2 separate regions of the Homo sapiens genome follow, and region 2 is linked to region 1. Evidence: fine-mapped expression QTL. A gene starts in region 1. The other region holds a variant in brackets. All regions are shown on one strand. Distances are from middle to middle. Region 1 holds the start of KCNJ16 (potassium inwardly rectifying channel subfamily J member 16). Region 2 holds the start of LOC124904052 (a long non-coding RNA gene).

Region 1 (2,922 bases):
CAGAGCAGATGGAGTCCTGTCCATTTTTGCGTGTGTGTTTTTTTTAAGTCTTTTGAGATAGAACTCTAACAAAGTGTGCTCTGCTTTCAAACAAGGCAGTAATTGAGCAGCATTAAGTGATAATATTGAACAACATCATGGATAAACCACAATGAGAGTTGCTGCAATTGTTATGGAAATGTAGGCATTTGTTTAGTCTTCAATTTTTTTTTTTAACAGAAAAGGCAACCTCTGCATTCACTGCTTACCTGAGATTTATGGATGAATGAAAAGATAGGTCCCTTGGAGAGTTCAAACTCTTCTGCAGATATTGTGTAACAGATTGCAAAATAGGTCTTCCTATCAGAATATGTATACCTTAGTGACAGCTATGAGTTTGGAACACGAATTATCTATCTGTGGTAGGTGTTGTCGTTGTTGCTATTATCATCCCCATTTGACAGTTGAGAAAATGGAGTTGCAGAAAGGTTAAGCAGTTTCTCAGTGTCACACAGCTAGTAAGTGGCGGTGCCAACATAGAAGTCCACTTCCTCAAGTGTTCATGCTTTTAAAAATGGAAACAAAACTCTAACAACCGTCAAACAGCAACGATTGTCAGAACCTAGAAAAGGCCTCTTAAATTTGCAGTGTTAACCAAGCCTGATGTGGTTCCCTAGATCCCCTGGCTGCCACCGCTCTGTGAAGCAAAGGAAAAACTAATTCCTTGCTAGCATAACACTTCTATTGAGCATTCCTGGACACAACTCCCCCAGGTTCTGAAGAGCCTAGGGTTGCTATTTGTTTAGTTCCCCATGGCTGCTTTTCACATTTTCTGGATCTTTCTCTTGATTCTAGCATTATAAGTCTACCTCTTCCCTGATCACTCACTTTTCTACCTCCTGGAGAGCACTGACCACGGGATCACCTCACCATTTTATTTAACCCATTAGGACTCAATGCCAGGCAAAACCTATACCACAGCCTGCATTGTATTCACCATCTCAGGCTCGAGCTCTGATTCCTGGGGTTGAGGAAAGGAAGACTTTCCAACCCCAATTTCTGCCATCCATGTTGATTAGTCAGAGGGCTAATCAACTGTGAACTCATGTTCTTTGGAACTAGGCAGCACAGGAAAAATAATCATTAAAGGTTTGGTAAATAAAAGACTGAATGGATGCTTAGCTACCTGTCATTATCCTGTCTCGCTTTTCGTCAGCATGCAATCCCAATCCTCAGCTGTTAAGATGTAGACAAAGAGTTCTGATGAAAGGGATTTATTTGTACTATTCCAACAGAGTCTGAAAACTAGCAGGAGCATTTCCATAGGTCGTCTCTCAACAATCCTGTCTGTAAATATTTGAGTCACTTACAGGCATTGTTGAGCATAGTTCTGGCCCAGCAAATCTTCCTCCTTTGTATCCCTGATCAAGTAAAAACTTAGTCAGGATATACTTGGGTGACCTTCACACTGTACCTCCTCCAGAGGTACAGAGGTGGTGACGTAATCACTGCCACAGCTGACTGGCTATGGCTTGCTTGATAAGACGCCAGGGGCTACCTATGTAGATTCCCAGGGAGGAACTGTAGGAACAAACCGGTGTCAATGGTTAACCCAGGTTCTTGGTGTCTGGAGCTTTTCTTTCCTTTATTATTAACTAAAGAGCATTCTCTACCATTGCCCAGCTGAAAGCACCTAGCTCATAGATTCTCTGTGGGGAGAGTGAATAAAGGTAAGTGCTATTATTGCTATGGATACAATGTCATTCAGCCTATGTTTTGCTCTTGCTGGCATCTGTGTTTGGGGAGCAGCAACACTCTGTTTCCAGCAAACGTAAATATTAATGATCAATTAAATGCAATTAAGATAATTTAATTTTTTATCCAAGTGCTTTAAGTAGGAATCAAACAGTGTGTCATATTCCTTAAGTTATTTTGAAGCTTTGGTTAAAAGTAGTCTCACATTGGTGTTTACAGAGTCTGTTAAACAGCCCTTGCCTGCTATTATATTTGTAAATGTCTAAAAGTGGCTTTATTATATTCATACCACATGGAGTATTCTGCAATGTCTTTCAAAACCAGATTTTTGCATCCTGTATGCACTTATGAACATATAATTGCAAATATTGAAAAATATGTATTTTATACCCCCCTCTTAAAAAGCTCAGAGAAAATACACGTTAACTTTTTTTTATAGTTGTCTATAATCATTGAAAGGAAATAAGAGATCTATTTTTTCTAGATTTATTTTAACATAAATTGAAAGTGAAGAATTTTCTCCTTTTGTTTTCACCTTAATCCCTCTAAAGCTTTTTTTTTTTTCTTATCATTTAAAAATCTTAAAATTTTGTTTTGAGTATTTAGTCAGAAAAGTGTGAGCTTGTAAAACTTTGCTCTCTGGATGCCACGAATTCTCTGACATATATAATTGAACAGTTTTCCTTGTTGGTATATTTAGGTAGTAAACAATAACATTTCTATAAGCCAGATGAATTTTGATCATGTGTATTACATGGACTGAATGGTCTTTAGAAAAAGAGTATTGGAGTATTTCTGCTAAATATTACTCTTATGGCTAGTAAGAGCCAGATCCTGAAGAAGAAAAAAATGTATGAATGCACCTTTGTTACTTTAGTATGGGAAATGTAGACTAGCCACTCTTTATGTCAGATTTTAACCAATAAAGGAACATGAAGTACCCAAACCACAGCTGTTTTGCAGAATACATTTAAGGAATTCCTGAAATTCAGCCAAAAAGAATTTAAAAGTGAACAAGGTCCAGAGTTCAATTCAAATCAAAAGAGAGAGAAAGAGAAAGAGAGCCTGAGTAACTTAGAGATGTAATCCTGCTTGTTTATTTTTAGAACACGATAATTGTGATAAATCTAAGATTATTAGTCTCATATACAACAAGACTGACAACCTTTGAAACTGCAAGAAAAGACT
Region 2 (2,922 bases), 53 kb after region 1:
TAACCTTATTTCATGAATTAGTACCATGAGGCTCAGAGAAAAGTTATTTCCACAAGATGCCCAGGAAGTTGAGGGCAGACCTGGAACTGGGGTCCGCCTCCTGATTCGGGCCCTCTCTGCAATACCGAAAACCATTTTATTTTAGACTATTTATTAGATTGGTGCAAAATCATTGTGATTTTAAGTTTTGCACCAACCTAATATTAAGGGAATTTGATTTCTAAACTCGGTAACTTAAAATTATAATTTATATTGTTTTGGTGCAATCCTGACATCCAGAACCATGGAGAAACGTAATCCCAGATTCTACATTTCTTCTACTTCTTTATAAAACAGCATTTGGGGAGAGGTAGGATTTATAATCAGATGTAGATACTACTTAAGGAAAAACTGGGCTAGAAACAGGATCTCCAGATAACGTTACTAGTGATGCTGATACACTGGATTTCTTCCCAGCTCCAGCTTTCATTTAGTTGTTTGCTCATAACATATTATAACCCCTTTCTATAGTAAACTGGCACAAGGTTTTCTTAAATTGATTCAGGAGGATAAATTGTAAAGTTATATCAGGAGAGGGGTAAAATCCACATTCACCAAAATGGAGGATTAGGGTTAGGGGTTAGAGCTGAGAGGGAGAAGAGATCAGAAAGGGAAGAAAAGGTGTAGGACACCCTGCTCTGGGGATGAGAAGGGAAGCTGAGAATGCCATTGACTTGTCACCAAAGGAGAAACTGAAGTTAGAGAGTCAGGGAGTATTTGGAGAAGCGTGGACAGTTATCTAGTAGGTTCTGGGTAAAGCAAGAGTTCAGTGGCCGAATGAAGAGCTCCACCTAAGCGGGTCTGAATGTCTTAGGAGGATTCCAGGCCTCAGGCTCCTGCATAATTCTACGGCAAGGGCAAGAAGTTGTAAAACAGGTTTTTGAGCAAAATAGCCACATAGACTAATTTGGCCTGGCATTGTCCTAACTCTTAATACCTCTCTCTCTCTGCTCCTCAGCACCCAAAGCCCACCCATATGTACCAACCAACTGCACCTTCCTCTACCGGCCTACTCTTCATCTACCCTGGGTCCCATCCTCCCGTCTCCTCCTCCTCCTCCCTCAGAGCTCCACCTAAGCCTGTCTTCAAAGGCAATGACCTGCATACAGAATTAGGCCATCTCTTCTACTCTCCACCCCATCAGCTCTCAAATTTCCACCAAAACTTATCTCATCTTATAGTTGTCAGGAAAGCAACTTGAATAATGATGACTTCATGTGTTAACTACCTCAGGTCCTTTACATGGTAAAGAAGGCACTCATTACCTCAAACACCACAGACATTCAGAATTGTGTTTTCTGAAGAAATTTTAGACCTTTTTTGTGGTGCATCTCAAAGTATACAAAGCACACACTTCATATTAACATATCATGTTAAGTAGATGCTAGAGGAAAGATCCAGTTTTATCACCAGTGTCTTAACCACTGTGTTGTACCCT[C/A]GGCATGAGCTTACCTTTGAAGAGCAATCTACAAGAGGAGTTTACCTGGTAAGTCGCTGAATTTGAGAGGAGGTGGCAAAATGGCAGAGGAATTGCTTCAAAATGGATGAGTCTGATTGAGACGCTTTTGTATACTGGAAACGGGGACAAATAAGCAGGATGTGCATTTGTTATGTTGAGAATGTTCCTTGCTGTGTTTATAGCTTATTTGAAATGTACTAAATTATTAAAAGTTTCTCCTTAAATACAAAGATTTAGAAAGCTGAGGCCTAAAAGTAGATCCTACTGGTCACAGTAGATTAAGAAATGTTTCTGTATCTGAGCTTAAGACAATGAGTAAGATACGAGAAAAGTGGTTATCAGGGTTGGGGTTACTGACCCTTCTAACTTCCCCTCTCTCAGACCTCCTCGTGGGATGAAGTAAATCAGGGAGTCTCTCGCTGCTTTCCTCAGTGTCTGTGGGTATTTAATAAACGTTGATGGAAACGCTTCACCAACCTGAGTGCATTGCCTCTCTTCTCTAGCCTCATCTATAAAAGAACTCTAAGTCATTTCTAAGCCAAGAAACGGCTGTGCTTTTACTACCTTTGTCATTATTATATGTCAGAATAGACCTTACCTGATTCAGCGTTTTCCTTCGAACTTCATATTCTACAGCTTTGTAATGATAGTTGATAGTAATTTTCATTTGCAATAAAAAAATAAAAGTTTAAACCAATGAAATAGCTGCAAGCCTGCTGTATCGGTTCGAACCCCAAGAGCGCGGTAACAAACACCACAAGGCGGTGTGGAGCAACACGCTGTTCTAATGAGCGCCTGGGTACAGACGGGCTGAGGTCTACAATGGCGTCAGCACCAAATGAGTATGCGGCAGGGGTTTATAAAGTCTCCTGTAAACAGGAAGTGTCTCAGTCTGATGTAACTGCTACGCAGTACGCGGACGGCCTCTCTTTCCGTCTTCAGCGGGTACGTGTCTTCCGGGCAGCCCTCTTCCTGCTTCTGCTATCTTGCTGACGCAGGCTGCTGACTCAAGTGGTCTTGAGCCTTGGGACTGGGCCTGAGAAGGGAGGAGTTATTCACCCTCCACCCCGCAGCTTCCAGGCCCAGTGGAAAGTCTTTCAATAGCCACCATCAGTTTCTACGGAGCAACATGTAAAAAATTACAAAAGTAGGAACATTGCAAATGCTTTCTCATGGCGGAATTAATGGCGACAAGAAAATTACGAAAGCATCGAAGCACTTTTAAGGCTGAGTTTTAATCCTAAGAAACACAAATGCTAAATATAAAATTCCAGTCAATCAACAAGTGCTAGCCTCGATTATTTAATGGTAAACAGTTGGGAAAAAGCTCAAATTAACACGAAATACTAAATAAGAGACTAATAAATATTTCATCTAGTTAGTGTGACAAAAAGGCCTCCATAAACTTCTTTGCTCATTGGGTA

What was found.
Region 2: its variant is fine-mapped to the expression of KCNJ16 in pancreas (GTEx, PIP above 0.99). The same link has a PIP of 0.9 or more in thyroid.

The regions. Positions count from the first base shown.
Region 1 is chr17:70,073,682-70,076,603 of GRCh38, forward strand. It overlaps KCNJ16 (potassium inwardly rectifying channel subfamily J member 16), which reads left to right and starts at 1,544. Exons shown (of 4, transcript NM_170741.4): 1 at 1,544-1,709. It overlaps LOC105371881 (a long non-coding RNA gene), which reads right to left and starts at 1,126. Exons shown (of 3, transcript XR_934952.3): 1 at 1-1,126.
Region 2 is chr17:70,126,547-70,129,468 of GRCh38, forward strand. All of the region lies in intron 2 of KCNJ16 (potassium inwardly rectifying channel subfamily J member 16), which reads left to right. LOC124904052 (a long non-coding RNA gene) reads right to left here and starts at 2,334. Exons shown (of 3, transcript XR_007065890.1): 1 at 2,097-2,334; 2 at 1,523-1,611. RefSeq lists an enhancer at 1,667-2,866. The variant C/A (reference allele first, on the strand shown) is at 1,478.